Linked DNA regions of Homo sapiens: regions 1 and 3 are each linked to region 2. Evidence: fine-mapped expression QTL. A gene starts in region 2. Each other region holds a variant in brackets. All regions are shown on one strand. Distances are from middle to middle. Region 1 has its middle 30 kb from the start of DRC11. Region 2 holds the start of ACKR3 (atypical chemokine receptor 3). Region 3 has its middle 23 kb from the start of ACKR3.

The links. PIP is the estimated chance that this variant, and not a neighbour inherited with it, causes the effect.
Region 1: its variant is fine-mapped to the expression of ACKR3 in whole blood (INTERVAL, PIP above 0.99). The same link has a PIP of 0.9 or more in T cells and blood mononuclear cells.
Region 3: its variant is fine-mapped to the expression of ACKR3 in blood mononuclear cells (TOPMed, PIP 0.99).

What each region holds. Positions count from the first base shown.
Region 1 is chr2:236,535,950-236,538,709 of GRCh38, reverse strand. It overlaps a transcript of ACKR3 not described here. Among named protein-coding and RNA genes, the nearest start is that of DRC11, 30 kb to the right of the region's middle. RefSeq lists enhancers at 447-496, 1,600-1,819. The variant G/A (reference allele first, on the strand shown) is at 1,671.
Region 2 is chr2:236,568,489-236,571,248 of GRCh38, reverse strand. ACKR3 (atypical chemokine receptor 3) reads right to left here and starts at 1,424. Exons shown (of 2, transcript NM_020311.3): 1 at 1,325-1,424. RefSeq lists an enhancer at 2,188-2,760.
Region 3 is chr2:236,545,456-236,548,215 of GRCh38, reverse strand. It overlaps a transcript of ACKR3 not described here. Among named protein-coding and RNA genes, the nearest start is that of ACKR3, 23 kb to the left of the region's middle. RefSeq lists an enhancer at 1,794-1,843. The variant G/A (reference allele first, on the strand shown) is at 1,487.

The sequences.
Region 1 (2,760 bases), 33 kb after region 2:
ATCTGGCAACCGTGCCTACACTGTAGTTTGCTGTTGGCTTTTTAAGGGCAGGGCAGATATCTACTCATCAAGAGGTCCACTAGACTTGGTCTTACCCCAGCCACTTCTCAGAAGACAGAAAGCAAGCTCTGCCCCGGTCCACCTTAGAACTGCAGCCCCTTTCCATGCTTGGGGCCAGTTTTGCCATTGATTTCTCCAAGGGACTCCTCAGTAGGAGGGTGGGGGTGGCAAGTCTTGCCATCCATCCAAGGTCAGGGTGGTGAGCCCACAGCACCTGGCTTCCGCTGTGGCCACAGACAGAGCCCAATCTCTGACTCGGATGGATCCTTTTGACCACGTTTTTAGTATTTCAAGTTGTGAAAATATATCATCACTGTGTTGCTGTTTCATTTCGGCAATCTGTGTCTGTTCTGCTTTTCTTTTCAGGAGACATCTAAAGCTCCTGTTACTTTGCAGAACACACTCAATAACAGTTAATCAAGTCAGGGATTATGGCCACACAAGGTTTTTAGCAAGTTTCTGAGAAGTCAAATACCAGGTGTGATGTGTGCTAGTATTAACCACGCTGCCCAAGGAAAGGATCTGGCTTATGTATATTGCTTTTCACGCTAGAAAAAAAAAAGAAAACAAAACCTCTTTGAATCAAGACCTGTTAAGAGTTGTTTGGGGAATTATTTTTAAAAGAACTATTCTTTTTGGAATACCTACTTCCAACATAAACACTTTCTTATTAGGTTATTTTTATTTTTCTAGCCTAGCAACTAAAAAAATGTAATCTGCAGAACTGATTGCCTAATAGAAGCACATTTGCTTGCTTGCTTGAAAGAGCATGAATACGCATTAGTGAAAGAAAGAAAACTGAATTTGATAAGAACATTAACCCTTTTGGAGAAAATGCAGACAAAAGTAAAGGCGGTGGAAGAGAGCACGTGGGTGATGAAGCTGGGACACATTTTCCCTCCCTCCAGTTCTTGGAAAATTCCTAATTCTGGCTCATAAGTAATAGTAGCAAAAAGGTAAAAACATAAAATTAAAGCAGCCACGTAAAGAGGCAAAATTCTTGGGATTTAAGCCATTCAGAAGGACAAGTTGTCCAGGTCTCAATGTGTACAGAGATATCCAAGGGGCCCTGTACCACTTGCATTTATGCCAGGGTGGCCCAATGGAGAACTGCTGTTCAAACTTCAGGGTCATGGATTATTATGACACTAATAAAAATGATGAACCTGCTTCCTAGAAAAAAGCATATGCACCCATGGGCCCATACATTTACAGGCCATTCGAGAGGCTGAGACACTGCCCCAAGCCTATTCATGGAGCCCTGGTAACAATCCTTGTACTAGGCAAAACCAGCCTCCTTACCAGCTTCTGCCTCCTCCTGGCTCATCTCCACCAGCCGCTCACACTTAGGACCAAGGCAGGCTGCCCCTGGGCTTGACCTTGGCCTCCTCCATTCTCCCTGTCAGCAGGTGGCAGCCATCCCATTGCTGGTATTCCTAGAATCCAATCAGGATTAGTAGACCGCTTGCCACAGTGCTACACAGCCAGGTAACACCGTGTTTAACCAAGCAGTGGTGAGAGATTTGGGGCAGGAAAGGGGCTGAGCTTCTGCAATGCAGACAGGCAGCGTGGAGCCTCCCAATACCACTTCCTGCAGGGCCCAGGGCAAG[G/A]CCCTTGCTCTCTCTGAGTTTCTGTGTCCTCATCTGTAAATGGGAATAATAACAGTGACTGCCATAGGAGCTGCAAGGAGGATGAGATGATATTATGCATATAAAAGTGCCAGACAGTCTCTAGGCACCTAGAACCCTCAAGGGGCCAGCTGTCATAACTGCCGACAGTTCACATGCGTCTGTGTTTCACTATTAGTTTCACTTCACACCTGCAGAGGGATTTACACACTGCAAGGCATTTCCTTTGGAAATTTATTATTGTAATTCCCTATTAACTCACAATACCCAGGAGATAGGAAATAAATTATTATTCCCATTTTACAGGTGAGAAGACTAAGACTCAGATAGATACGTTAGGTGAGTTGCTTTTCTTGACTCCCAAAGCTGGTACCTTCCCCCGGAATCAGGTCATCTAGCAGAAACCCAGGAATTGAAGGTGATCAATGTTCCCTCCCCCAGATAGAAAGACATGGGTTACCCACAAGCTACAACCAAGTTCATGAACAGTGCAGAAGCCTTTCTTGTTCCCGTCATATCACAGAGCTCTCTGCTTGAACTCAACGTCACGGCTTCTCATCCCACCTTTTACTCCAGCCACTGTGGCAGCAACAAGCTTCCTGCAGGAGGTACCTGTGGGCACCTTTTCTATGACACACGCATGGTGCCCACACAGCCTGGGAATGACTCTGTGTGGCAGCCCTGGACCAAGGGAAGGCATGTACTGGATGACGGCTCCTCCTTCTGTCCTCAGGCAGACCACTCTGAGAGGCAAGTCCCCCCCAGCTCCTCAGTGCCCAGTGGATGGGATCCGGCAGCCCACAGTGGCGGCCAGCCTGAGGAAGCACTGTGGAAGACCTTGCCCTTCTCCCCACTTCACTCTCTCAGCCCTGCTCCTGTTCCCTGATATGAGCTCCCCGAACAAACCCCATCATGCTAGGCCTAATACCTGGGAGGAACCCAGTCTCCAGCAGGAGCCCTTGCTCTTGTCTGTCTCCCTTTCCTCCCACTGCCCTCCCCACCATCCTCTGCACCCACCTCCCTCTGCTGGCCCAGCTAGGGGAGCCTACCGGACACCAAGAAAAACCTGTCT
Region 2 (2,760 bases):
TGTTTCCAAGCTAGAGCTCCCATGTGCAACTTTGCTTTAGAAAAGACTTTCCATCTGGGGAAAGCTCATATTCTGATGAAAGAAGGGCAAGCAGTTTATCCATTTAAAATCTATGGAAAGTTAAAGCACAGAAACCAGCAGCCTCCACTTTCTTTGCTAGGCGTGCCTAGCTGATGTCCACATTTTTCCTGGAATAAATAAAGGGACACTAAAAGCAGCATCTGCCTTTAAAAAAGAAAAGAACAAAGTTACCATGTTGAGACTTTGCAGACTGAAGTTTCAGGGGATGTCACTGCACCAAATACATTCAAAGGGCTGTAAACCATTTAAGGAGGCTCTCTCCCACTTTTGAAACACTAAGTAATCCTGTTGTGAGCAAAAGGAAAGAAAGAAAGAAAGAAAGAGGAAGAGAGAAAGAGAGACAGCCAGTCTGACTTTTACAACTTCTCATTCTCCCTGGAAGTTACAAGTCTTGGCTAACCACCCATCCCTGACCTCACTCCAAAGTTCTCTCAGTCACTCCTTGAATCTTTGCACATGCCAACAAAATTGAACAAAATCCACATTTTACCTGAAGAGTATATTTAAATTGCAAAATAGTAGATTTGTGTGTGTGCTTCCCCCAACCCCAATTGAAGTTGGACTTAACACCTTCTAAGAGAACAATACTCAAATTAGATTAGCAAGCGTGCCATCAAGAGAAGAGAAGACCGGGCTGTGTTTAACATTCACGTTTATAGCTTCCGGACTTACAGACTCTGGTAAATCCCCCAAAGTACTGAATTCAAATACATCTTGGACTCACAAAGATTCTCAGCAGTTTTCTGCTCCATTTAAGGATGCCTCTTAATAAAGTGTTCATCATTCTGGAATTACGTATTTACTGCCAATTTTATCTGTTTCCAAACTGATATACTAGAAGCAAAACAGGTAAACAGTGGGTGCCAAGCTAATCCCCATGCCAAATTGGTCAGGCAGAATGGATAGTCTGTGTTCTTGCAAAGTTCCCCTGCTTACTGGAGCTTAAATAGCCACACAGCAAATAAACACCAGATTCCTAAATACACATGGAAATTTCCTTCTGCAAGTGACTTAAGAAAACTGCCCTTTGCTTTCTGAAGAGAAAGGTGAAGCCCTCCGAATTAGCAAAAGCACTTTGCAATGCAGCTGCGTGCAGCCTGGGTTTTCAGAAACCAGACCCGCAGACTCAAAAGCACCCATCTGAGCGATTTTAAAGAAGGCCTTTGAAAAGACCACTTGGCTTAAGAGCAGAAGCCGTGCCTTCTTTCCGAGCAGAGCTGCTGCCCGAGCACCGTTTCCTTACCTCCGGGCTGGCTGGGCTGGCTGGGCTGGCTGGGCTCGCTCGCCTTCCTGGCTGTGCTGTGCGCTGGCTCCCTTAGTGCTGAGCACTTTGCAACAACTGTGAGCTCTGCTGGCTGCAGACTTGCATTATATACACTGCAGAAAGGAGCCTCTAGCCTCTAGATGGCAGCTTTGTAACCCACATCTCTCTCTCCCCCGTGCCACCCCCATCCCACAGGCAGACACACACACACACACACCCCCCTCTTGTAAACCTCACTAGTCTGTTGTTTCCTGCACAAGTGTACTCTTGGGAAACCCCAGCCTTCTTTCATTTGCAAAATCTGGTGAAGCCACAAAGTCCAAACCCCACGGGGGGAAAACGTCAGCCAAAGACAAACTGCAAAGAAACCCTAGTGCTTGGCAAAATCATCAAATATTTATCTGGTCTCAGGTATATCTTGAATAATCCCATTAACACCAAGAGCTCCTGTGAATGCCTCTTCGCTCTAGGGAGGACTTTGTTCCCAAGACAAATTACTCTGAACTTCTGAACTTCGATGTTGATTTACTAAGCCTGGGTTTTCCTTGTTAATTCCTCCAAAACAGAAGTAACAGTTTTGGTATGACCAATGAATCGATGCCACACCGTATATCCCCAAAGTGGAGAAAAGAGTCTTTATAATAGATTATACTTGAATACTTTTATTTGTAAAGGACTTTAAGTACAAAATCCTTGAGACTCTAATCAAGATAGTATTCTACAGTGTCTGCCCAGTGCCAGACACGCATTAGGAAGATAATAAATGCCTTTTGATAATGTCTTTTTCTGAGATGAGTCTGGCAAACACTTTACTACAATTATTGCAATCTACATTCTTATTTGGATGCGTATTGCTAAAGTTCCCCCCACGGAGGAATTCAACCTAAAAATGTGATCCAGGTGATACTCATCTCCAATGCCCCATTTACAAAAATCGTCCATAAGATAGGGACCCAAAGGCCACCCGCCAGCCCATCCCATGTGCAATGCTCTGGCTTTCGTATTGCTTTCTGATCTCCTGGAGTTCTTAAAGAGCGGCTCAAGTGGAGTGTATGAAGGCACCAGCTGTATTCACGCCTTCTCCAGAGCTAAAACTTTTCGAGATTCTTTTTATACTTCTACTAAAAATAACAGCAGACGCTCGGTCCCAGCGCTGAATCTGGGGGACTGGGAGGTCAAAGTCTCACGTGGCTAGAAAGTCTCCGTGTGGAGAAAGCCCTTAACGAAAGAAATATTTTGTTTAGCTAAAAGCTTCACATTTTTCTCCTGAACTGGCTGCCCAGCGGGAGGCGAGGTGCACACCTGCTCTCCGGGGGCCTCCGGAGGGGTCGCCCTGGGGCCGGCCTTTCCCAGCCCGAGCGCAGCGTCCCGCCACCGCCTCTGCAGGGCGGCGCAATCACTCTTCGTGTCACATC
Region 3 (2,760 bases), 23 kb after region 2:
ACATGAAAAAACCCAAGATACTATGAGAATTAAGCAGGAACAACAAACAGCAGGATCAAACCTGTAAAACTATAGTTATTAAAATTATCAGATACAGACTGCAACATTAGAATGTAGAAAAAAACATAGACATGGGAAATGGGAAGGAGAAATGAAAACTAGGAAAGGCCAGTGGGAATGTGGAAGATATGTCTAATTGCAATTCCAGAAGGAAAGACTTCAGAGAATGGGATGACACAACAATCAGGGAAAGTGGCTCCTCTGAGTTTTCCAAATTGATGAAAGACACAAATCCTCAGATTCAGGAAGCACAACAAATCTCAGGCAGAAGGCATTGGAAGAGCTAGCACCCAGATACGCTGTAAAAAAAAAAAAAATGAATGAAAGATAAGAGGGAAGATCTTAAAAGCAGCCTGGAGAAAAGGCAGACTGCACAAAGAATAGGCAATTAGATTGAAATATGACTTTTCAGCTGCAAAAATGGAAGCCAGAAATCAGTGGATTCATATCTCTAACATGATGAAAGATCACAGCTGTCAATCTAGAATTGTAAGCCCAGGATAATTACCTATTAAGAATGAGTGCAAAAATTTAAAAAACATTTTAACTATCAAAAAATTGAGTTTTCTGCCAGCAAAGCTTCCTTAAAGGAACTTCTCAAAAGGTTCCACTACTTAAAGGAATAAAATGGTCTCAGGAAAAAAATGGTCTGATATGCAAGAAGGAAACGTGAACAAAGAAAATAATCTGCTTGTCGGTAAATCCAAACCAACTTTATACATATATTTGTGGAGCCTATTCTTTTGTGTATAAAGAATATACATTCTTTGACAGATAAGCCTAGAGATAAATTTGCCTCTCTAAAGAACATTTCTCAGTTAGGACCTGAACTTCCATAAGTATACTAACACTTTTATACTGTAGGACTTGAAATATGTTAAAAAGCAAGAAGAAAAAAACAAGAATAATATTTGTAAACAGTCATTAGCTCTCTATAAAGAGGCTCTGGGCAACTTTTATTTCCTTCTTCACACTGTACTAGGTTTTCTGCAGTTTCTAGAATCATTATTGCTGAGGTCTCACAACCACCTGTCATCATGACAATGTGTGTCTATGGACAGGGGTGATGGATGCCATCTAAGACAGGTGGAATAAGAAGTCTCCACCAACCTCCAACTCTCTGACTCTAGAGTCAATGCTGCTGAAGCCCGACAAGAGAGGATGTACTGTTCAGGGGAAGACAAAAGTCACAGGGCCAATGCTGCATTGATTTACAGTGGGAACAACCACCTCCAAGGCCAGCCCCTTTCTCTCCCTGTAGGCAGCTCTTAGAGAGAAGCCAAAACATAGTGAGAACATGCTTTCACTGGGGTGGATTCAGAGCAAAGGAAGTGGGCTAAGTGAGCCTCCTGCATAACGGTCACAGGAAACACAGCCTCCTTGCCCTTCCTGCCAGTGGGCTGGGTCGCCCAGTCCCCTGAACGAG[G/A]CTCCCCATCCCCAGGCAGGGTCTGGATGGCACTGCCCACATCTGTTTGCCTCTGGTGCTCTGCGCACTCTCTGCTGCCCAGGTTCTCCAACCCTCTCTTCCTGTAGTGAGTAAAGCTTCAGGCAGGAGGGTGGTCACGTCTGGCAGGCCTGAGCGCCCTCTCCACGGTGACTGGCTGTCTGCTCATCTTTGGATGTTACAATTTAAATCTCAGAGCACACTCTGATACCTGTAAATTTAATTTATCATTATAACCACCAAAAACTGACAACAAATTTTATTAAATTTATAGTGGAAAAGTATCTATGTAGTAAAAATCACAATGTGAACTAGCCCTGCCCTTGTGGAGAGAGATGGACTCAGAGAGACAGAGGGGGAACTTCATTGATCACTGAAGTCAAGAGGTGTGTGTCAGTGAGTGGGCCCTGAGAAGCCGTCCTTCCAGAAGGAGGCCTCAAAGAGGTCCTTTTCCCCCAGGGGCACACCTGTCATCAAAGTACCCATTGTGCCTACAACGATGTAAAAAATCATCTTCCTATCACAAATTCAACAAACTTAGCTAATTATCTAGCTTCTCCTGGGACCAAGAATCGTTAGAAAGAAAATTCTGGTACGGGAGCAAAACATCGCATCGTTGGTGCTTCACAACTCACAAAACGTGGTCCTGTATTTTCTCCAGGAATACATGCAATGAGTCTCTGAAAAGGAAGCAAAACTTACAGTGGTGAAACGTGGCCCCTCCTTTGTAGTCGTGCTGAGAAACAGAGAACAGCTGTCCACAACTTCATTTCCTTTCTCGCAGACTTTAAAGTTGGGGCTTTTCAATTCTCATTACGCCGTATGTTTTCGGTGTGTGAAATTCAACAATGATACACTAAACCAGGCAAATAATTTAATAAATAAACATGACTTCTCTTTCTAATAATATAAATTTATTTGGCTTGGAAAACACAGTGAGCTCTCCCCATAAGAACTGTAAAGTATATTCCCAGGGGTTTTATTTTACATCCCCAGATAGAAGAGATTCCGTGTCATATACCATGAAATCGTAGTGTTTCATAACCAAGTTGTAAAGTGCAGCACTGAAAGTTGATTTTGTCCGTCTGCCACACTTTTATTGACGATTTGATACACTCATTCTTCCCCGGAGCCCTAATATTTTGTGCACTCTTCTTGCCATACCTTGAACATCATCGTCTAAACATTGATTGGCTGCCTGTGGCACTCTGGCTCCCAGATCCTGGGGTGTAGCATGTGTCTTTCCTACAGACATC